Homo sapiens: one gene and its partners. The protein of the gene in region 1 purifies or fractionates together with the protein of each later gene. This does not show direct contact. Each region holds a gene or a part of one and is shown in the gene's direction. Other genes may lie near its edges.

Evidence for each region.
Region 2: the proteins of TCEANC2 (region 1) and WASHC4 purify together in Homo sapiens (affinity purification with mass spectrometry; 2 studies listed by BioGRID and IntAct, with this or other methods). This does not show direct contact.
Region 3: the proteins of TCEANC2 (region 1) and ANKHD1-EIF4EBP3 purify together in Homo sapiens (affinity purification with mass spectrometry, with the first as the bait; 2 studies listed by BioGRID). This does not show direct contact.
Region 4: the proteins of TCEANC2 (region 1) and ARIH1 purify together in Homo sapiens (affinity purification with mass spectrometry; 2 studies listed by BioGRID and IntAct, with this or other methods). This does not show direct contact.

Annotation. Positions count from the first base shown.
Region 1 is NC_000001.11:54,056,608-54,063,607, forward strand, and holds part of TCEANC2 (transcription elongation factor A N-terminal and central domain-containing protein 2), read left to right. Parts: intron 1-7,000.
Region 2 is NC_000012.12:105,166,731-105,169,681, forward strand, and holds the end of WASHC4 (WASH complex subunit 4), read left to right. Parts: intron 1-133; coding exon 134-201; 3' UTR 202-2,400; downstream 2,401-2,951. UniProt on the Homo sapiens protein: Acts as a component of the WASH core complex that functions as a nucleation-promoting factor (NPF) at the surface of endosomes, where it recruits and activates the Arp2/3 complex to induce actin polymerization, playing a key role in the fission of tubules that serve as transport intermediates during endosome sorting.
Region 3 is NC_000005.10:140,397,356-140,404,848, forward strand, and holds the start of ANKHD1-EIF4EBP3 (ANKHD1-EIF4EBP3 protein), read left to right. Parts: upstream 1-4,477; 5' UTR 4,478-4,612; coding exon 4,613-4,918; intron 4,919-7,493. Other genes in the region: ANKHD1 (ankyrin repeat and KH domain-containing protein 1), read left to right, coding at 4,613-4,918. UniProt on the Homo sapiens protein: May play a role as a scaffolding protein that may be associated with the abnormal phenotype of leukemia cells. Isoform 2 may possess an antiapoptotic effect and protect cells during normal cell survival through its regulation of caspases.
Region 4 is NC_000015.10:72,561,285-72,568,335, forward strand, and holds part of ARIH1 (E3 ubiquitin-protein ligase ARIH1), read left to right. Parts: intron 1-198; coding exon 199-265; intron 266-2,109; coding exon 2,110-2,216; intron 2,217-5,278; coding exon 5,279-5,321; intron 5,322-5,821; coding exon 5,822-5,893; intron 5,894-7,051. UniProt on the Homo sapiens protein: E3 ubiquitin-protein ligase, which catalyzes ubiquitination of target proteins together with ubiquitin-conjugating enzyme E2 UBE2L3.

The DNA of each region.
Region 1 (7,000 bases):
AGCCACGGCACCTGGCCCAAACACCCATATTCTAATATACCTCCTCCTACCGCTCTCCCCTCTGGGTTCCTGCTCGTGCCCTAGTTGAAAATCACTATGTGTGATGATGAAAATAAATGATGTGAAAATTATGGAATAAGAATAAAACAACAGGCTGGACTCAGTGGCTCATGCCTGTAATCCTAGCACATTGGGAGGCCAAGGCAGATGGATCACCTGAGCCCAGGAGTCCGAGATCAGCCTGGGCAGCTTGGCAAAACCCCATCTCTACAAAAAATACAAAAGTTAGCTGGGTATGGTGGGGAGCGCCTGTAGTCACAGCTACTTGGGAGGCTGAGCTGGGAGGATTGCTTGAACCTGGGAGCTGGAGGTTGCAGTGAGCCAGGATGGTACCACTGCACTGCAACCTGGGTGACAAAGTGAGACACCATTTAAAAAAAAAAAAAGAATAAAACAAAAGGCATATTTAATAACATTCCCCTTAAATGCATTAGCTTTTCTTCCAAACCTCTTCCTTGTTCTCCTGTATTAATGTATATCCGTATACCAAGTAACTGGGACTAGAAATCTAGGAACCATCCTTAACTCTTTTTTCTCATATCCAATTTTCTTTTTTCTTTGTTTTTTTTTTTTTTTTAGGGTCTCGCTCTGTCACCCAGGCTGGAATGCAGTGATGTGATCATGGGACTATGATCACATCATAGCTGGGACTATAGGCACATGCCACCACACCTGGCTAATTTTTTTTTTTTTTTTTTTTTTTTGTAGAGACAGGATTTCATCATGTTGTCCAGTCTGGTCTTGAACTTCTGGGCTCAAGCTATCTGCCCTCCTTGGCCTCCTGAAGTGCTGGGATTACAGGCATGAGCCACTACGCCTGGCCCCAATTTTTAGTTTTACTTCCTAAAAATCCTTCTTGCCCATACTCACTTGATTGTCTTCCACTTTAAGTTCAGAATCATACTTCTCATCTAGAGCAGTGCTATGGTCTGTTGACTTGTCTCCCTGCCTTTGACATCCCGCATTCACCTCCCTTCCACTCTTACACCAGAGAAATATGTCTCAAATAGAAAAGAAAATCTACTCAGGTCACTTTCCTGCCTAATCCTTCAATAATTTCTCATTACCCATCAATAAAGATCACAGTTTTTTACATGACACCCAAGGCCTTCCATGACCTGGCGCCTGCCTGCCTCATCCCCTGCTAGTCTTTTTATTTATGCCTCATCCAATGTCAACCATTCACAATTCCCCAAAGATGTTGTGCTCTTTCCTTCCTCTGTGCCTTTGCATATACTGTCCTGTTTGCCTGGAATTCCCTTACTATCTTGTCTTGGAGGCAATATAATGCAATAATTAAGAACATAGACTCTGGAGCCAGACTGCCTTACTAAAATCCCAGCTCTGCTACTTACTACCTTCGTGACCTTGGTCAAGTTATTTAGCCTCTCTGTGTCCATCTTAATCTATAAAATGGGGATTAATAATACCTGTTTTATAAGGTATTATGAAATTTGAGTGAGTCAACATATGTAAAGTGTTTGGTACAGAGTCTGGCCAATACTAAGTACTTTGTAAGTCTTTGCTATTATTGTTATTATCATTACTTTATAAAATCCTATTCATCTCCCATGACCTAGTTCAAATCCTCTACTATTGGGCCCTTCCTGACCACCCTTTTGTCCCTGAGACGCAGAGCCAATCTAATCACTCCCTTCTCTGAGCCATCCCTGTATATTAAACATGTCTGTATCATTGCACTTATTTGTGCTGTATCATGGTTGTTTCTTTACATGCCTGTGCCCCGCTATACTCTGAGCTTCTTGAAAGACTATGTCTCATTGATTTTGTGTCACTGGTTCCTGGCACAGGACTTGGCCTATAGTAGGCTGCAGTACATTTTTCTGAATGACCAAATGAAGTAAAATAAAAGGCTTGGCATGGCACGTGAGACCTGTTCTACCCCAGTGCGCTTATCGTCTCATACCTTGTAGCCCCTGCTTTATATGTACGCATTCCAGCCACACCTTATTTCTTGCTGTTCTTTGTTTGTTTGCTTGTTTGTTTGACATGAAGTCTCACTCTGTTGCCCAAGCTGGAGTGCAGTGGCGAGATTTTGGCTCACTGCAACCTCCACCTCCTGGGTTGAAGCGATTCTCCTGCCTCAGCCTCCCAAGTAGCTAAGACTACAGGCACACGCCACCATGCCCAGCTAATTTTTGTATTTTTAGTAGAGACGGGGTTTCACTATTTTGGCCAGGCTGGTCTTGAACTCCTGACCTCGTGATCCTCCCGCCTCGGCCTCCCAAAGTGCTAGGATTACAGGCGTGAGCCACTGTGCCCAGCCTCTTGCTGTTCTTTGTATAAGCTCTTCCCTTCCATGCCTTCAGGGCTTCCTTGAACTTGATGCTTGTCCCTTTTCCTTGAAAGCCCTTCTGTTTCTTTTTACAGAGTCAATTTCTACCCATTTGTCAACCCACTCAAGAACTACTTTGCCTATAAATCTTAGATTATAAACTCCATGAGTACAGGACCTTGAGTTTTCTTTTTTTTTTTTTTTTTCAACTCAGAGTCTTGCTCTATCACCCAGGCTAGAGTGCAGTGGCATGATCTCAGCTTACTGCAGCCTCTGCCTCCTGAGTTCAAGCGATTCTCCTGCCTCAGCCTCCCAAGTAGCTGGGATTACAGGTGCCTGCCACCACACCGAACTAATTTTTGTATTTTTAGTAGAGATGGAGTTTCACCATTTGGCCACCCTGGCCTTGAACTCTTGACCTCAGGTGATCCACCTGCCTTGGCCTCCCAAAGTGCTGGGATTACAGGCGTAAGCCACCACACTCTGTCAGGATCTTGAGTATTTTATTTACTTCTCTGCCCTTGGACGTAGCACAGTGCCTGACACATATTAAGTGGTCAATAAATATTTGTCAAATAAATGAATGTTGAAATGCTTTCTGGGTTCTCTAAGGGAGTTAATCCTTCCCTCATTAGTACTCTCAACGTTTGGTTCAAATATCTGTGGAAGCATTTACTTTACTGTATTGTAATTGTCTGATTACCTGTAGCTTTCTCCAATCCACTATGAATTCCTGAGACCCGGGACTGTAATATCTTATTATGTTCTGATCTGCTCCAAAACCTAACACAGTGCCTGCTACACTGTAGGTAAAATGTATTGAATAAACAGTAATCATCTGTATTCTGGCATGCCGTTGTAGGGTTTTGATAGTAAAGTATTCTACAAATGTTGTGAAACAGCTTATGCCCAGCACAATGCTAAGTACTATAGAGAACATGAGAGAAACTTAAGATCAAAATACAAACCCTCATGAAACTTCCTGAAAAGTGATCAAATTATAAGAAGTTAATAAATAATGAAGCCAGGTGTGGTGGCTCATGCCTATAATCCCAGCACTTGGAAGGCCAAGACAGGAAGACCACTTGAGCCCAGGAGTTTGAGACCAAACTACATGGTGAGGCTACATGGTGAGGCCTCATCTTTACCAAAAAAAATTAGCAGCCAGGCGCAGTGGCTCACACCTGTAATCCCAGCACTTTGGGAGGCTGAGGCGGGTGGATCATGAGGTCAGGAGTTTGAGACCAGCCTGGCCAATATGGTGAAACCCTGTCTCTACTAAAAATAAAAAATTAGCTGGGCGTGGTCGCGCGCGCCTGTAGTCCCAGCTGCTTGGGAGGCTGAAGCAGAAGAATTGCTTGAACCTGGGAGGCGGAGGTTGCAGTGAGCTGAGATTGCGCCACTGCGCTCCAAGCTGGGCGACAGAGCGAGACTCCATCTCAAAAAAAAAAAAAAATTAGCCGGGCGTGGTGGCATGCGCCTATGGTCCTAGCCACTAGGGAGGCTGAGGTAGGAGGATTGCTTGAGCTCAGGAGGTTGAGGCTGTAGTGAGCTATGATCATACCACTGTACTCCAGCCTGGGCAACAGAGCAAGACCCTGTCTCAAAAATAAAATAAAATAATGAGGAAAAATTATATGTGATCCATTACAGAATTGTCATATAGACAATAAGGGCTAAGAGGTAAGAGAAGAGGCCTGGCGTGGTGGCTCACACCTGTAATCTCAGCATTTTGGGAGGCTGAGGTGGGCAGATCACCTGAGGTCAGGAGTTTGAGACCAGCCTGGCCAACATGGTGAAACCTCATCTCTACTAAAAATACAAAAATTAGCCGGGTGTGGTGGTGGGCGCCTGTAATCCTAGCTACTCGTGATTACAGGAGGCTGGGGAAGGAGAATCACTTGGACCCGGAAGGCAGAGGTTGCAGTGAGCCGAGATCATGCCACTGCACTCCAGCCTGGGTGACAGAGCGAGACTCTGTCTCAAACAAAAAAAAAAAGAGGTAAGAGAAGAGAGAGCTTAGTCCCTGTTTTAGTGCCCAAAGAAGGCTATGTGGCAGGGCACCATAAAGGGACAGGAGGATTTGACTAGGTCTGATATACTCTAGGGAAGTAGTGACATATAACCATTCAATGAGTGGTATGTGCTCTTCTGTTTCCTCTATGTATGCATGATGCTTGGTGTGTTCACAATGGCAAATTAAAAAGAAATTGAGTTAAATGTGAATGTTAGAATCAGCTAGGTCCACTTTCTGCCAAGTGACTTCCAAACATGAGCATTATGTTTTAATGCCAAGAACCTACTAAATGTTTAAGCCTCAGTTTCCTCATCAGTAACATCAGAAATAACAGTACCCCATCTGCATGATTATTATGAGAGTGAAATAAATAAATTCATATTGAAAGGGCTAACCATTGTGCCTGGTATGTAGTAAAAACCAATAGTTTCCTCTTTTCATGTATGGAAAAGGAGGGGCTTGTATAGTAAAACCAAAGCTGAGGAGGAGGAGGATGATAGTAGTAATAAGGATTACTACTAACATTTATTGAGTCCATTTTTATGGTCCAGGCATTGTGCTAACTAATGCTTTACATATATTAACTCTTTAAATCTTAATAATAGCTTTGTGATATGTATGCTTTTATCATTTATATTTTACAGATGAAAAACTAAGGCACAGAGAGATTAAGTAGCTTGCTTGAAGTCATGTAGCCATTAGTGGCAAAGTTGGGATTTGAACTAGATAATCTGGGTTCATAGTCTGTCCCCTATAGATAGGGTGAGCTGGAAAAAAAAAAAAGTGGAAGTTTCTGAATGCCAAACTGAAGAGGTATAAAAATCTTGGAATATTAGGACCATTGTACTTCTGTTATCAGTATATATTACAAGTAATTTTGCCATAGGTGTATCACATTCTATAAAAGTGATTCTCAATAGAGCTCATGTAATGTCCATTTAAGTGGTAAAGGTTAATTTGGTTAATCTCTTTTTACTCCCTTAAGAGGAAGTGATTTCTTCTGTTGGTTGCAATAAGAGAATTTTTTAAATTAAAAGGTCCTAGAGTATACTCATTCTTTTAGGTTCATCACTTCAGAAGGTTCTATGAACCTTTCCTGCCTTTGTAGGATCAACTAGCCAATATGTTGCCTCCTGCCCCCACCAGTGGAATGGTGCCCACGTAACTGCTTATGAGTGAATCATTTTCCCTAATTGGTTTTGTCAAACCTGACATTTCAGCAATCCACAACTGTAAAACCAGATGGTATATTGGAAAGCACATCTTCTTTCTGGCAATAACTATTCTACTCCTCATTGTAGTGTCCTTATTGATATTTTGTGTCCATTTCTCTTGTTCCTCCAAATAATTTGAGCAATCTATTTTCTGGCCCATAGTTAGAGATTGAGACATTTCTTGATATATATGGAATTCTTTTGCTCTTGAATAGACTGATGTTTTTCCTATTCCTGACCTAAAATTTCATATCTGAAAACTGTACTGTACTTAGTCCTTGAAGGTAGAAATAGTTTTGTTCAGTTACACCTACTGTGCACTGGGGATAGTGAGATAAATGAGAAATGGTTCCAGCCCTTAAGGGAAAGACAGCCTTGTCGATGGTAAGTATTTGCAGAAAGCATAGATGCAATAATAGGAGTCTATACAAGTTGCAGAGGGACGCAAAGTGGAGTATGGTAAAATGTGGTAAAGGAGAGGCAAGAAAGGCTTCATAGAAGACATGATGCTTGAAGAGAGTCTTAAAAAATGAATAAGTATTTATCAGGTAAATGAGGTAAAGAAAGAACATCCCAGGCAAAGGTATGAAATTCAAAAGGAAGCTGTAAATAGTTTGGCGTATCTGGAGCAAATGATGAGACTGAAAAGAATGTCAGGAGCCAAGTCATGGAAGGCCTTTTATGCCATGCTAAAGAGTTTGGACTTCTTTAGTTCCATATGTTGATATTATCTGATGTGGAACTCTTAACCTGATTCCAGCCATGCAGAAATGCTGGATTAAAAGTCTCCAATACAGAGCTGAGCTTGAAAGCAAGAAAGGGAAATCCTTAGGTGCCAGGAAGAGAGAGGAAAGCAAAATCAGAGCTGTAAATGGGAGCTGAAGCTAAATAGTTCCAGGGAACATTGAATCCAGATATAATGCTTAGGGGCTGGGATTTTAAGGCCAGTATGGATGGGAGATAAGACCTCGGGCTAATGTGATGTGGGGAGCTAGAATTGATCTCCTATGTGAAGCTGGAAGCCGAAACAGGACTACCATATGTTTGTGAGAAATGAGCTAGAAAAATTCCATCCACTGGTCCAGGGAAGCAGATTGTTACCTTCTCAGGGTCTTAGATGGAAAAAGAGTGGACAATAATAATAAATTAGAACCACACTCTTATTACCATGCATGAATATGTGTACAGTCATCTCTCAGTATCTGTAGGGGATTGGTTCCAGGACCCCCACTACAGGTGCCAAAATCCACTAATGCTCATGTCTGTTATATGGAGTGGTGTGCTATTTGCCTATACTCTATATAGATCTTCTTGTATAGTCTAAATCATTTCTAGATTACTATACAGGTTGAGCATCCTAATCTGAAATCAGAATGTCACAAAATCCAACACTTTTGAGTGCCAACATGGTAC
Region 2 (2,951 bases), on another chromosome or scaffold:
AGAGAAACATTTGATGGATGCAACTGTAATTTGAAGTTTGGCAATACAGCTCTTCTCAAATTTCTTTTACTTCTTAATTTATTGTTTAAAAATGAACATAAATATCCATTATTATTTTCACTCATGCTTTCAGAAGAAACTAAAACAAGCAATGGAGACCTGTCTGACAGCACTGTGTCTGCTGATCCTGTTGTGAAATGATACGGATGGTATTCACTGCACATATGATGAAATCATCAGAATTGTTAAAACTTTTGCCAGTGGAATGGATAAACTATTGATGAATTGTTTCCTGGGTCACATCTCTGGAAAATAGATGTTACAGTTCTTAAAGGCAGTGCTTTAAAGTGAAGTTCATTCTGTTTCCAAAGGCTCTACTTTCAAAGGTTAAGAATGAGATTTTAAAATTGGATTTTTGCCTGGACTTGAGGGTACAAGATGTTTCTATTTGAAGTGAAGTTATAAAAGGGCAAATCCAGATTCATAAACTATCACCTCGGATTTCTTGTAATCTACATGTTTGTAATTTGTATTTGCATAGATCTTTGATCTATAGTTATTTCAAGTCATGGGAAATTCAATGCATATACTATATACAGCCAGTAAATACATGCTTAACAAAAGGAATGAGCCTGAAGTTCATAAAGAATACATATCAATATTCTTATAAAAGGAATATATGAAGATGGCTTTGATACTAGAGGTGAGGCACAAGTGTTTTATGTACTCTCAGTGTACAGTATAACTGATGATCCTTCTTTCATTGTTAATTTCATGTGACTCACAAGAGCTGCTGATGTCTTTGATGAGACATTTTATAACTAGTTTACATTGCTTTGAGAACATTTAACCTCCAACAGCTGCTTTAAATTTAAGATTTACTTAATACTCAGAAAATTCAGATAAAGCCATAGAGTCCTGTTTGAAGCTTCACTTCTATTTTGGTTGAAGGCATGATGTATGATGTCAGAAAAAAAATTGAATGAATTATTTCTACATCCAAACTCAGGTTTCTTCTACATTAGATTGAATTGAAATTTTGGTGATGGTTTGGGTAGACTTTTTTTTTATATCAAGTATAATTTAAAACATCAGATTAAATAATTACACTGTTCAGGCTTTTAAAAAAATACCACTGTGAGAATAAAGCGCTAGCAAGATACATCACTTACTGATTTTAAAAATACAGAAAGATTTTGAGTAAATTTTGTGCCCAGCAAGCTGTTAGTTTTATTTTTGTAAAGGTATGTAAGTTATTAAATGGTTAATCATGGCCTTTTAAAAATAAAATAAAGTGATACCTTTACAATGAAGACAAAAGTTTAAAACTTTCTAATACAAACACCATTTTGGGAAATGCTTGATTTTTTTCTATTGCATTTGTCTGCTAAACATTTCTTTGGATAAATCCTGCAAATACTTCTAACATTATTCTTTGATTCCAGCTTTTAGAATGGGTGTACAATGCCCTGTTTGTACTTACTGGTTAGGGTCAGGGTAACTTGCCAGCCCAAGATAAATACTTTAATTGTTAAAAGTCAGAAGAGACAGAATATGTAGGAAATGTTTTTTGTTTATTATGTAAACATGGCTTACAGAATTATGAACAGTGGATAGATTAAAGGCATTTAATATTTGTAATTCATAATAACTGTAGAAATGGCCCTAAAGCATGCTGCATAATTAATAATTTATATTTTCATTATTATAAGTGTTTATATTAATGATCTTGCATTTGATTATATCAAATTCGTCATTTCATAGCAACAGTATTGTTTTCTCTGTTTTTCTTCTCTAACTTCTCTGAAATCATCTCCTATTAAGGGATAGAAATTGTTACTAGAAGAGAATCACATGTTCTGTGTTCATTATCCCTACACATGTAAATTAATTATTTTATCAATACTAGATAGAGTTCACATGCTGACTCCCTGGATACCTACAGTTGAGAAGAAAATGACAGACAATTATTTTTCCTTTAGGTCAAAATAATGTCACTGCTATCTGGATAAATTATAAGTTCATATATTTGAAATAAGATCCTGGAAACGAATTTAAATGGTGTCAAACTGCAGAGCAACAGGGCTTCAGTATATTCACATCTAATAGGTTAATATGTACATTTGGATGATGATTTTTCTTGATAACATTAACATTAATTTTATTTTTTCAGACATACTGTAATTTAAAAATTAATGTGAGCGTTTGTTTTAAGTTCACAGAAAACTTAATAATTCAAATTCTCAGGAATTAAGGACTCACCATAACATTGTCAGTTCTAATGAAATTTTGTAAAAGATGGCAAGTTTGTTACCTCACTTGAGTGGGGTTTTCCTTTTCCCCCAATTCTAAGAGAATATAATGTGTATACTAAAACATTAATAAACATAATTTTGAAAATTTCCTTCCCCTGGATGTTTATGTTCAAAATTGAATGTCGTAAACCAGTAGTTCTTAATATTAACCTTTTTGGGGTCCCCCTTAATTGAATGAAATGAAATCTGTGGAATCATTTTTTTATAAAATGCATGCACATAGGTAAAAATTTGAAGTTTAAAATTGGCTCCTGTCAATGTATTCCAGGTGAAAGAAAGGTGTTTTCTTTCCTTTATACATCCTTGATCTTTCCAGAGCTTTTTTCCAATAAAAAGAACCAATATGAAGTTACTTTAAATCCTAATCCTGGAAAGGGATTATCAGTATGCATTGTTTAATGTTAGTAATAACTATAGTGCTATTTGCAAACCTGAGTTGAACTAAAACAATACAGTAGTCTCCCCTTATCCGTGTTTTACTTTCCAGTTTCAGTTACCTGTGGTCAGCTGTGGTCTGAAAATATTACATGGAAAATTCCAGAAACAATAAGTTTCAACTTGTGTGTTATTCTGGGTAGCATGATGAAATCTTGTGCTGTCATGCTGCATCCCGCCTGGGACGTAAGTCACCCCTTT
Region 3 (7,493 bases), on another chromosome or scaffold:
ATATTTCAAGGCCATGGCAGGTTATTGGGAAAAGTTTTCAATTAGCAATAATGATGCCTTTGGCTATGATACTGCCACTGAGCAAATCTCCACTCCATTTTTTTTCTTGAGACAGAGTCTCGCTCTGTCACCCAGGCTGGAGTGCAATGGCGTGTTCTCAGCTCACTGCAACCTCTGCCTCCCAGATTCAAGCGATTCTCCTGACTCAGCCTCCTGAGTAGCTGGGATTACAGGTGCGTGCCACCACGCCCAGCTAATTTTTGTATTTTTAGTAGAAATGGGGTTTCGCCATGTTGATCAGGCTGGTCTCGAACTCCTGACCTTGTGATCCACCCGCCTCAGCCTCCCAAAGTGCTGGGATTACAGGCATGAGACCCCACACCCAGCCCAATTTTTGTATTTTTAGTAGAGACAGGATTTCACCATGTTGGCCAGGATGGTCTTGAACTCCTGACCTCAAGTGATCCACCCACCTCAGCCTCCCAAAGTGCTGGTATTACAGGCATGAGCCACCATACCTGGCCTGAGTGTGATTTTATTTATTTGTCAAATGTATCACTTGATATTGTGATGATTTATCAATGAGTTTTCAAATTTTAAAACCATAGGAATGTAGTATATATGGAACTATTGAATCACATTTTCTTTCTTTCTTTTTTTTTTTTTTTCGAGACAAAGTTTCACTCATGTTGCCCAGGCTGAAGTGCCGTGGTGTGATCTTGGCTCACTGAAACCTCTGCCTCCCAGGTGCAAGCAATTCTCCCGCCTCAGCCTCCTGAGTAGCTGGGATTATAGGCGCCCACCACCACGCCTGGCTAATTTTTTGTATTTTTAGTAGAGACGGGGTTTCATCATGTTGGCCAGGCTGGTCTGGAACTCCTGACCTCGGGTGATCCACCCACCTTGGCCTCCCAAAGTACTGGGATTACAGGCGTGAGCCACCATGCCCAGCCATTAAATCACATTTAATAGAGATTCTATATAGCAGTCACCAAAATATAGGAGACTAGGAGTTCCTAATTCCCATACTGACTGTCAAACTACTGACAAGTATCTCAAGTAAAGGTCCTGGTGAAACAAAGATTATTGCTCAATCACATTTCTTTAGCTATACTCAGGGTTAGTTGCTAGGCACTGAGTAAAGAGAGTGTTTTCTTCCCTCTCAAATAAATTGAGAAAAATGTATATATATCCAGATTTCCTTTCCCTGTGTCCTTGAGAGTCATTGTATTTGTTTAAAGAATTTAATGAGTTTGTTCAGGGAGTTGCATCAGAAATTATTTTTGTATCAGTAGTAAGCATGACAACTAGTTCCTTTGTAATGCTGTACCAGTCAATACCTGTTTTTGCCTAAGGATGTATCCATACCAATTCTGGATAATCCAGCTTTGAAGTGGGTTGGGCAGTGCCAGGTTTCTTTTGTTGGTGTTATTAGTTTGGGTTGTGACTTAGTCACACATGCCTTGAAAACTTAACAGCACTGAGGATATAGGCTAATTAAGTTCCACAAATGCTAACTAAAGCCAGTGTACATAGCATTTACATTAAAATAGTTCTCTAGAATAGGTACAAGACTTTTTTTTAACATTTTCTACAACTTATTTATTATCTAGAAAGAACATTTAACAAACATGTTCTGCTCATAGAAAACACTATCCTTTACATGTGAAATGTCAAAATGAGCAATTACTAAGCCAAAGAAATGTTTATGATATTCAAAATGTTTTTTAAATAAATGTTTGGCAGAATCAACTTTTAAAGTTATTTTAAAAATCATTATATTCTTATAAAATTTTAAGATCCCAGTTTAAGGATGACGAAATATTAAATATTGCACAGTTGAGATATATAAAGGCCTTTGTTAAAGTTGTAAGAGAGGAGAAAATGACTTTTTTTTTTTTTTTTTGAGACTGAGTCTTGCTCTGTCGCCAGGCTGCAGTGCAGTGGTGCGATCTCGGCTCACTGCAACCTCCGCCTCCTGGGTTCAAGCGATTCTCTTGCCTCAGCCACCCGAGTAGCTGGGATTACAGGCACGCGCCGCCACACTTGGCTAATTTTTGTATTTTTAGTAGAGACGGGGTTTCACCATGTTGGCCAGGATGGTCTCCATCTCCTGACCTCGTGATCCGCTCACCTCTGCCTCCCAAGGTGCTGGGATTACAGGTGTGAGCCACTGCGCCCGGCCATTTTTTTTTTTTTCAGCCAAATTCTGTTATCATATGGACATTCTCTGGGTCAAAGGATATTTTCCATACAAACCACCAGACTCCTTTTTTGGTCATGTCTGATTAAAGGATTAGATAGAAACCGTTTTTTTTTTATTTTTTTAATTTTTTTAGACAGGGCACCGCTCTGTTGCTCAGGCTGGAGTTCAGTGGCACGATCTCGGCTCACTGCAACCTCCATCTCCCAGGCTCAGGGGATCCCTCCCACCTCAGCCTCCTGAGTAGCTGGAATTACAGGCATGCACCACCATGCTCGGCTAATTTTTTTTTTTTTTTTGAGACGATGTGTTGCTCTGTCGCCTAACCTGGAGTGCAGTGGCACGATCTTGGCTCACTGCAAACTTCGCCTCCTGGGTTCAAGTGATTCTCCTGCCTCAGCCTCCCGAGTAGCTGGGATTACAGGCACGCACCATCACATCTGGCTAATTTTTGTATTTTTAGTATAGACGGGGTTTCGCCATGTTGGCCAGGCTGGTCTAGAACTCCTAACCTCAAATGATCCGCCCACCTAGGCCTCCCAAAGTGCTGGGATTAACAGGCGTGAGTCACCGCGCCGAGCCCAATTTTTGTATTTTTGGTAAAGACGGGATTTCACCATGTTGCCTAGGCTGGGCTCGAACTACTGGGTTCAAATGATCCGCCCGCCTCAACATCCCATAGTGTTGGGATTACAGGCGTGAGCCACGGCGCCCGCTATAGAATCTGAATATTTTTAACCCCCCTCTTTACTGACAAGATAAAGACAGAGATAGAGAGATGCATATAGGGAGGAAGAGATCTCCTTAGAGGAGGGAAGACCACCACAGCTAGCCTTGTTTTGCACCACACAGATCTGATTAGAACTAGAATTAGTTGGGCTGGCAGGACCCAGGGGCGAGCAGAGAGTTCCTGAAGGAAGAGGAGACAATAACTAGCAAAAATGAGTCTTTCCTGTAAGTTTGGGACTTTGCTAAGCGCTATATTATCATCTAATTTATTCATAACAACAACCCAATGAGGAAGGTACTAATATTACTCCCATTTCACAGAGGAGCGAGTTGAAAGTCACAAAAATGAAACAGCAAACGCGCCGAAGTCAGGCAGCAAGTAAGTGGCAGCACCAGAACTCGAAACTGCCTCGGAGCATGCACTCTTCACCACCCCGTTCCACCTTGAGGTCGGATTCCGCACGCCGTTCGCGGCATTCCCACCTTCCTACGTGGGACAGTTCCCGGTACTGAGGCATGGCGCTGTCCAGCCCTCAGGCCCGCAGCCGTCCGCAAGCAGGAGAACGCGGCCCCGCTGGGCGATCCTGCCCGAAGGCGCCCGAACTGCGGCGCGCGGCCGGGTCCTGGCGGGCGGGTCGAGTCTCCCCAAGGCGGCCATCCCAAGCAGCTCCCCGGATGTCCCTCAGACCCGCGCGCTAGGCTCAACTCAGAAAGGCGGGAGGCGCGAAGCGAGATCGGCCTTGCCCCTCGACTGTCCCCTCATCGCTCCCCGTCCTCTATTCCCTCCCAAATAGCCCCCGGCAAATAGGTTACACATCTTCACCTGTCCCAGAGGTGGTGACTGCTCTAGTGACTGACGCTACGCTCCTCCAACCAGGCAATGGCAGGAAGGTGGAGCCTTCCTAAGACTGATGGCTTCCTTTCTCCAATCCCGGTGCAGCTATTCTCCGGCCATAGTCTCGGCGCCCAGCGGAGAGCGACAGGTGGGAGCTGCGTTACTTCGGCGCCTCTTGCATCCTTGACGTAGAAGTTTCACCAAGCGCAGGGTGAAGTCTACTCCAAATTTGACCAATTCTTGCGGGTCATCACTTCAGCAGTCATTTTATTCAGAAGTGGAAATTTCCCGGCCCTTTCCCGTCACCTCAGATGAGGGCGGGATCAATGGTACTCCCACAGGCCAATTGTACCACGCGACGTCCCGCGACAAAGTGACCGACACTTTATGGCGCCAATGAATTCTCCCATTGTTCGGGGTCACTATGACTGACCACAAGGCCAACTAATCCACTTTAAGGTCGTGACGCGATAGTCAGGCGGGTTGGCCAATAGACATAGGAAAAGAGCGGAAGTCAGCTGGTGAAGAGTGGGAGGCGGGTGTTCGCAACCGCCTAGGCCTGCGCGGGTCAACGCAGCTTGGCGGCTGCGAGCCAGCGAGCGGCGCGTGACGAAGAGCCTGAGCGACGGGTCACTTTGGCCAATGATCTGCAGCCGCCAGGGTATTGCAGCCAGTGGCGAGTCGAGGGGGCGGGAGGCAGCAGGTTAGGCAGTGAGAAGTTAGTGGCGCTGCTGGGACGGGGGAAAGGAGACGCTTCTTCCTCTTGCTGCTCTTCTCGTTCCCGAGATCAGCGGCGGCGGTGACCGCGAGTGGGTCGGCACCGTCTCCGGCTCCGGGTGCGAACAATGCTGACTGATAGCGGAGGCGGCGGCACCTCCTTTGAGGAGGACCTGGACTCTGTGGCTCCGCGATCCGCCCCAGCTGGGGCCTCGGAGCCGCCTCCGCCGGGAGGGGTCGGTCTGGGGATCCGCACCGTGAGGCTCTTTGGGGAGGCCGGGCCAGCGTCGGGAGTCGGCAGCAGCGGCGGCGGCGGCAGCGGCAGCGGTACGGGCGGAGGGGACGCGGCGCTGGATTTCAAGTTGGCGGCTGCCGTGCTGAGGACCGGGGGTGGAGGTGGTGCCTCTGGCAGTGACGAGGACGAAGTGTCCGAGGTAAGGCTCCGGGACCCTCGCCTCCCACACATTGTGAGGCGTGAATTCTCTTTGGGTAGGCTCTGGGCCGGGGCCATCCTCCCGCTTCCCTGGTGGAGCCCTTCTGTGACAGCGGTCGGCTCCATGGCGGCGGTGGCCGCGGTGAGGGCCTAGTGAGCCCTCGGCTTACTCTTTAGCTCGAGCGGGACAGGTTCCCGTCACCATTCGTAGACCCACAATAGGGAGTCCTTTGGTCTCTGAGCTTCGCGCGGGAACAGGGACTCCTCAGGCTGCCTCCCGCCCACCCTGCTTTGGAGTTGGGGGTGGGGGGCGGGGTCTTGCCAGAGTCCCTGCCCTTGGTACTGAGAGAGACAAACAGAGACAGAGACAGAGCTGGTGCAAAGATCGTTTCTCTTCTTTGCCTCTCCTCAGAGTTGAGGGATACGTTTATTTGCCTTCTGCCTTGTGTGTGTCTTACCTGTGTGCTTAAGGACGGTTCTTATTCTCCCTCTTCAGTTTGAGACAGGTTTGAGTATTAGGGATCTCTCGGCTTTTACCCTGAAAAATCACGTGACTCCTCCTTCTGGGACCTTTTGTGAAGTTAGACAGGAAAAGGAAGTTCCAGGGCATCCCTGAGCTTCGGAATAGCTGGGTAGCTGAACTCGGAGGTTTTAGGCTTGGAGAAAGTGGGGCAACCTGTGGAAACCTCTTCTTTTTTTTTTTTTTTTTTTTTTTTTTGAGATGGAGTTTCGCTCTTGTTGTCCACGCTAGAATACACGTGATCTCAGCTCACTGCAACCTCCGCCTCCCGGGTTCAAGCGATTCTCCTGCCTCAGCCTCCCGAGTAGCTGGGATTACAGGCGTGCGCCACCACGCCCGACTAATTTTGTATTTTTATTAGATACGGGGTTTCACCATGTTGGTCAGGCTGGTCTCGAACTCCTGACCTCAGGTGATCCGCCCGCCTCGGCCTCCCAAAGTGCTGGGATTACAGGTATGAGCCACCGTGCCCGGCTGGACACCTTCACTCTGCCTTTGCAGTGAAGTCCTTCATTTCTTTAACTCTTCTGTGTGTACTCTAATGTGTACACATTTTTAGGTCTGAGCAACCTGGGATGGTAGGCATTAACTTCTTTTGGGTTCTGGGGAAAAAGGGGCGGGTTTTGTTTTTGTTTTTTGAGATGGAGTTTCGCTCTGTCGCCAGGCTGGAGTGCAGTGGCGCGATCTCGGCACACTGCAACCTCCGCCTCCTGGGTTCAAGCGATTCCCCTGCCTTAGCCTCCTGAGTAGCTGGGACTACAGGCGCGTGCCACCACTCCCGGCTAATATTTTGTATTTTTTAGTAAAGACAGGGTTTCACCATGTCCAGGATGGTCTCGATCTCCTGACCTTGTGATCCCAAGGGGCGGTATTTTATGTGTATACTTTTTTCTGTTGACTGTGGCTTGCGTAGAGTACTGTACCGTGATTGTTTTAAGTGCTCAGAGTATTTCTTCTATTTTGGTTCTGAGGTGCCTGAGTTGTCACCTGTGACCAGTTATTTTAACCTCTGGTCTTGGTGTTAAAGTACAGGAATTTCTCTGTGTGTACTAACAATCCCGGCTCTTGGATTTGAGAGGAATAAGGAGAAATTATTTGTGGGTTACAGACTGCAGTTAGTATACTGTCTTATCATTCTAGGTCTGAACAGGGTTTTATTTAATATTTAAAACCTTAGTACATTCTGACCCTAACATTTTGCTTTGGAAAAAAAAGTGTGTGGGTTATAAGGCGGGTAGTCCCTTGAATGTCTACGTCTTTGAATTTCACGGTAAGGGAAATAACTTCTAAGCCAAGGTGAGAGAAATGTTTTATTTGAGTAGGCAGTTATGGGGAGAGACTCTGGAGTATCCCTGCTCTTGGTCTTGTGGAAGGCTTTATTTTATCCTTTCAGTGAAACGTGAGAGATTAAGCTAGAACACAGTACTTTTTAGCTAGGAAATGAAGTGTGGGGGATATCCTTAGACTAAAGATTAGAGCTTATTTTCTATGAAACTTGTAAATGAGAATCTGAAAGAGTTTGCTTTGGTCTAAATGTGATAGAAAAAGGGGACCTTGATTTTCTTGACCATTTTTACATAATTGTCATGGGTGAGATGAAAGGTCACTCATTTGCCTTTTTTTTTAATTTTAATTTTTTGTTTTTTTTGTTTTTTTTGAGACTGTGTCTTGCTCTTGTCACCCAGGCTGGAGTGCGGTGGCTCGATCTTGGCTCACTGCAACCCCCGTCTCCCAGGTTCAAGCTATTTTCCTGCCTCAGCCTCCCTAGTAACTGGGATTCCAGGTGCCTGCTACCACGACTGGCTAATTTTTTTGTATTTTTAGTAGAGACGAGGTTTTACCATGTTGGCCAGGTGGGTCTCAAACTCCTGACCTCAGGTGATCGCCCTCTCAGAGTGCTGGGATTACAGGCATGAGCCACCACGCCCGGCCTTAATTTTTTTTTTTTTTTTGAGACAGGTTTTGCTATGTTGTCCAGGCTAGCCTCAAACTCCTGGGCTCGGGTGGTCCTCCTACCTCAGCCTCCTAAGTAGCTGGGACTATAGGCACACGCTAC
Region 4 (7,051 bases), on another chromosome or scaffold:
TAAAACTATACAAACTTTGAAATTATTGTTCTGATCAGTACAGTTATATTTGTTGATAGCCTATGTGCATTTCAGTATTTACAGCTTAGGGCATAAACATGTAGCCGTAGCATAAACAGCTTTTGAAACTATGTTTTATAAATGTGGAAAATACTCTTGACTGGAAACTTTCTAATCTATTTTTATTCTTGGTTTCAGGCGCCTGATCACAGATTCAAAAGTTAAATTAAAGTATCAGCATTTAATAACAAATAGCTTTGTAGAGGTAAGTGATTTGTTTTCCTTCTTGTAAGAAGGAATTCTGTTTATTAATAGAAATACTATTTTAAAAATTATAATTTATTGACAGTAAAAAACATCTTTAACATATTTATGAAGCATGCCAAAATACCTTTATTCTCAAAAGAGTATGACAGGCCAGGTGTGGTGGCTCATGCCTGTAATCCCAGCACTAAGGGAGGCCGAGGCGGGTGGATCACCTGAGATCAGGAGTTCAAGACCAACATGGCGAAACCCTGTCTCTTCTAAAAATACAAAAATTAGCTGGGCACAGTGGCACAAGCCTGTAATCCGAGCTACTCGGGAGGCTGAGGCAGGAGAATCGCTTGAACCCTGGAGGCAGAGGTTGCAGTGAGCCGAGATGGCGCCACTGCACTCCAGCCTGGGTGACAGAGCGAGACTCCCTCTTAATAAAAAATAAAATAAAATAAAATAAAAGAGTATGAGAAACCAGTAAGTACATCTCTCCATAGATCTTGACCTTGGATAATAAAATTATTTTTACTGTATTCTTCCTTTACTTTTCTTTATCCCTAGCTGAGAATTGTAGTAGATTACTAATCGTGTCATGTTTAATCATGTTTGAGATTCTAACCCTGCTATTTCTCTGCTCGTTTTAGGTTTCATTACCAGTAAATCTTGTTAATAAAGAATGCTATCCTTTATTGGACCATGCCTTTGCCCATTTGTTCTATGACTCCTTTTGTGCTACAGTGGCAGAGTTGAGTAGTTGCTACAGAGACTGTTCTGGCCTGCAAAACCAAAATTCTTTACCCTCTTGGCTTGTTACAGAGGAGTTTTTCAGCCCCTGTATGACAACATCAGTAACTTGGTCTTTTAATTCTAGAAAGTAATTATTTCTGTTAGAGATTAAACCTGGAAACAGCCTATTTTAGAAATAGTGTATTATTTGAAATGGTCAATGGACTTCTGAATTCTGGTGCAGAGTGTTTTTTTTTCATAATACTATAAAAGTTATATTTCCTTTTGAGGAACTAAAATGCAATCTTTGCCTGTGGTTTAGGAACTGGGTTTTTTGTTTGTTTTTTTTTTTCCTTCTTACAAGAGCTTTTTATGGGAGAAGTTGTATGTATATCCTTTAGCCTATCTTGAACTATTCTGTAGCTTCTAAACACCTTCCTTGATAAAGAGTATATCTGATTTTCTTGTGTCTTTTGAAAATTGTTCTGAAATAGAACTGTAAATAAATTAGTGGTTTTTAATGGTCACATACATGATATTTAATTAAAGTTATTCAGTGGGATTTTGAAGATAGAACAAGAGGTGATTCATGTATTTTATAAAACCAGGTCTTCAGGGATCAGTCATCTTTAAAAAAAAAAAAAAAAGGCACATCTGAAGTGTTGCTATAGAAGACCACAGCAAGTTTTCATAAGCTTGTGTAATTATCCCCCATTTGCCCCTTGTACCAGAGAAGCAATATAAATAGCTTGATGTACTAGGAAATCTTGCATCATGACCTAATTTAATTTGCTGTCTTTTTTTGAGGCAGGGCCTCATTCTAACACCCAGGCTGGAGTGCAGCAGATGATCACAGCTCTCTGCAGCCTCTACTTCCTGGGCTCAAGTGATCCTCTTGCCTCAGCCTCCTGTGTAGTCGGGACTACAGGCACATACCACCATGCCTGGCTAAATTCTTTTTTCTTTTTTTTAAGGTAGAGACAAGGTCTTGCTATGTTGCCCGGGCTGGTCTGGAGTGCTTGACCTCAAACAGTCCTCCCGCCTTGGCCTCCCTAAGTTCTGGGATTATAGGTGTGAGCCACTGTGCCCAGCCAGCTGTCATTTTTTATTTTCTAACTTGTATTTCAGTGCAATCGACTGTTAAAGTGGTGTCCTGCCCCAGATTGCCACCATGTTGTTAAAGTCCAATATCCTGATGCTAAACCTGTTCGCTGCAAATGTGGGCGCCAATTTTGGTAAGCAAGTGATTTCCTAAATTGAAATAGTGCACAAAGCGTTTCCATTTCTCCTGTTTATTCTTGGTAGTAAAATAGCAGAAAAAAAGTGTTTACCTTAGGCAGGGAGATGTTTGATACTGGTTTAAAATAGTATATATCTCTTTCAGAATTGAATGAAAAGGTCACATCTTAAAAAAATTTTTCCTCTTTCCTTGATGTTCTAACTTTTTTGAATTTTTTTTTATGGAGAAAATATACAACTCTAATCATATCTTCCTGTATGCTCCACTGTAACTTAATGGGAGCAAACTTGTAGATCTGGGACTATACGTTTTTCTTTACTCTGCCAAATTTTAACCTTACTTATGCAAAGGAAATGTGCAGGTAAATTCTGCTGATGGTCTCCTTTTTAACTAAGAGTTTTCCTGTGGCTCCTCTCGCCCAGCTTTCTTGGTAACTTGGGCTTTTGGAGTTCTATAGTATACTCTTCAGCCTCTGAATTCTAGATTTGAACTGCCAGGAAGTTTCCAGTGCCACATATTAGGGGATGTCTTAATCAGTTCAGGCTCCTTTATAGGTGTTCTAGTTTTTTCCAAAGTGGATAGGCTGAAAATTTTTCAAATTTTTGACTTCTTATTTCCTTTTGATGAACAGTTTATCTCTAGGTCATTCATCTCTTCTTGCATTTTCTATAAACATTCAAGAGAAGCTAAGCTGCGTCTTCAACACTTTGCTTAGTAATTTCCTCAACCAGATATTCAGTTTCATTTCTCTACCTTCCACAAAACAATTCAGCCAACTTCTTTGCCACTTTATAGCAAGGATGGCCTTTCCTCTAGTTTCTAACAGCATGTTCCTCATTTTCATCTGAGACCTCATCATAATGGCCTTTACTGTCCATATTTCTAACAACATTCTGTTCATGGCCATTTATTTAGGTTTTCTCTATGATTGAGGCATTCCCTGCACTTCTGTCTTTCTGAATCCTCACCAGAATTACCCTTAACAATTCAGTTCATTCACAGTGATCTAGGCTTTTTCTAGCTTGCACTTCCAAGCTCTTCCAGCCTCTACTTACTACCTAGTTTCAAATCGGCTTTCACATTTTTGGTTTTGTTAGAACAGCACCCTCACTTCTTGGTACCATTTTCTGTCTTAATGTTCAGGCTTTTATAACAAAAGACCATAAACTGGGCGGCTTCTAAACAACATAAATTTATTTCTTACAGTTCTTAAGGGTGAGAAGTCCAAGATCAAGGTGCCAAAAGATTTGTTGTCTGGCGAGGGCCTGCTTTTCTGGTTCATAGATGGTGCCTACTTGCTGGGTCCTCATATGGTGGAAAGGACAAGGCAGCTCTCTGGGCCCCTTTTTTTTTTAAAAAGGATGCCAATTCCATTCACCTCCTAAAGGCTCCACATCCTAATACTGTCACATTGGTTATTAAGTTTTAACATACACATTTTAGGGGGACACAAACATTTATATCCTGCTAGAAGTTAAGATGATTTTCTGTTCCTTTGAGGGTCTTGAGGAGTAAGAAGCCAATCAAGTCAAGGGGCTCTAGACCCAGCAAATAGATTTTTTGTTTTGTTTTGTTTTGAGAGAGGGTCTCACTCCATCACCCAGGCTGGAGTGCAGTGGCACGATCTCGCACTGTAACCTTTGCTTCTCAGGTTCAAGTGATTCTTGTGCCTCTTGAGTAGCTGGGATTACAGGCGTGTGCCACCACGCCTGGCTAATTTTTATTTATTTATTTATTTGTTTATTTATTTATGTATTTATTTTTAATAGAGACAGCATTTCACCTTGTTGGCCAGGCTGGTCTTGAACTCCTGGCCTCAAGTAATCCACCTGCCTCGGCCCTCCCTAAGTGCTGGGATTACAGGTGAGAAGCACCATGGCCAGCCAGATTTTCTTTTTTGCTGCGGGGTGGTTTGGAGGGGGAAATATTTTATTGGTATTCCATACCTTTCTTTTTTTCCTCCAAACATCTATAGAATTACACTTAACACATCATTAATAATAAATATTTCCAAAAAGAGCAGGTAAGCTCACAGAGATTAAGTATGTGTAAAATACATACTGTTTCGATAAAGATTAATTATGTATTGTTATTTTAGAGAAAAGGTGGATAATACCTACTTTCCAATGTATTTTTAGCGTGACACATTTCAAACATAAAAGTATAGAGAATACAGCAGTGAATACCTATATAGCTACAATCCAGTTAAATCAAAATTAGTATTTTGTTTTTCTTCATTAAGAGATAAAACATGACACATATATTTGAAGCTCCTTGGTTCCCTGCTCCTTCCCATTCCCCATCTTTCTTTTCAGAAATAACCATTTATCTTAACCTGATTTAAATCAATAGTAGTTTGTTTCTGTCTTTAGCAAAGGACTTTTTGCCATTCGTAAATTACTTAATTAGCTAATTAATCTGTCATTTTATTATTTTTTTCTTAAGCATTTGTGTTTGTTAATTATACTTCTTTTACAAGTGTATATGTCATGAACTTAGAAAACAAAAGTGAATTACTGATTAACACATGTTTAGTGAGTATTTAGTCTTTTTGTTTTATACCTTGCCCAGTACCATTTCCCTCTACAGGGCGGAGGTTCATTTGTTTAAATAATGCAAAGATGTGACCTATTTGCTTCCCATATATTGTTTACTGTGTATTAGTACTAAATTATATAAGTAACCTACAAAGTCAGCCTTTTATTCTTCATTTAGGGTGTTAAGTAAAAGATTAAAAATGCACTGATGAAGCATGGGTTGAAACTTCTCAATATAGTCTGAGGCACCTTAGCAACAATTATTATGAAATTGTCATCAAAGCGTGTCTTCATGCTTATAGTCATTCTTCACACATATTGAGTACCCACTATGTGCTAGTTCTACTACTAAATTCTAGGTAATTAACTGTAAAGCAGACATGGGTTCTCTCCTTGTATTTGCCAGTCACTAGAAACTAGTGACAATACTGTGGAACTATAAGGCATGAAATGATTGGCTTATTTACTTGCTTACAGTAGGTAGGCCTTAATTCTATTAACTCTTTGTGTCACTTAACAGCTTTAACTGTGGAGAAAATTGGCATGATCCTGTTAAATGTAAGGTGAGTTTGTCTGACATTTCAATTTTTAAATAATGGCACACTTCTAAGACTTAGTGACTAAAAATCATAGCTGATGATTTTGTTATCTATCTATTGATAGATTTTTTTTTATCCTTTTAATTTCAGATGATCATTACATGTATTCAGAGGTAATTCCTTAGGATAAGCCAAGTCAGCTCCTGATTGTTATTAGGATAACCATGGCTAAGGCACCTCTTTGTCAGGCTTTGTAATTAGGGGAATACACACCTTGCAGTTGGGCTTCTCTTCAAGCTCTAGGTTCCCCACTCAGCTTCTGCCAAAGAAAATCCTGCTTTGGTTGATTTTATATATACTGGACATTGTAGCTATGGGATTTCCCTGGCTTAAGAGGATGTGAGCCTAGTGATAATCTTATTCATTGGCTTTTACATTTAAGCTTGACTATAGTTAAGTGCTAAAGTAATTTGCTATTTTTAAAAGTCTTTTGTTGTATCCTAACCGTTGTTATTTTCAAACAGTGGTTAAAGAAATGGATTAAAAAGTGTGATGATGACAGTGAAACCTCCAATTGGATTGCAGCCAACACAAAGGTTGGTGTTTTCCTTCAGTAACTCTTGGTAATAAAAATGATAAGGATTGGTACTTTGGCATTAGCAAAAGCAATGAGGTGACCTACTTACAGGCTTTGTTTCATCTTTTTCTCCATTGAGTCTTTTTTTTTTTTTCCCAGAATGTTTGCCTGTTATTTCCTTTTTCTCTTTGAGTTTATTTTAGAGTATTGAGTACTGTAGTACAGCATCCACAGTTCTCTGCCTTAGGTTTCTTCTACTGGAAAAAAAATTAGTGTTCTGTAGAGGAAAAAGCTGATAATTTTTCAAGTGTGGGATTTGTGCTTGGCTGCCATTTAGTATACAAATGCATTGGAGTTTACTCCGCCTAGCTTGGTTCTGTTAGGCTAATTTACATTTTTGTTTCTAATTTTTTGTTTTGAAGTACATTGCTCTTGATACTAGTTTCAAAATTCAATTTCAAAATTCACTTTCTTAACCCCAGACAAATGTCTTAGAAGTGTTTAAATCTTGAGTACCCTTCTCCTCGATCACTAATCTAATGAGCAAGCATTTGAATGCCAACCGTGTACCCAGCTAGTCTTTTAATACAAAGTCGTATTATCCATCCTTTATGTAATTCAGTCCTATCCTATCCCCATAGTGAGTGACTTGGGTAATGAATGGTAGGTTGGTTCATGGGCTATTCATTTTTAGTATTATTTTGTACATGTAAAGATGATGCTTTAAAGAATGCTGAGTTGTTTGACCCATAGTATATAAAGCTATCTTTGAACTGTTGCCTCAGTCATCACAGGACAATGAGATTAAGAAGTGTGTAAACAATGAAGGCCGACGCAGGTTGTCTGTGTGTGTTTAAATATACATCTTACATACTTATATATAAAACATGAATTTATATTTCTGTCTCCCAGAAAGTAGTGAAACAGTGAATCTTGCCACATAAAACAAATGCCCAAGTCTTTAAGGAATATATGGTAGAAATTAATATTTTTTGTTCCCTCCAAAACCATCACGATAAGCATAACTCACGTCAATCAAAGAAAACCTTACTATAAATATACTGTAATGTCAGAAAGTGGTTACTTGTTTTGTTATTAAAAAAAAATTCTTAGCCAAGCATTCTTTTTTTGAAAATTGAAGATTTTCCCACAAGAAATGTTCCTTAAGTCCCAGAAT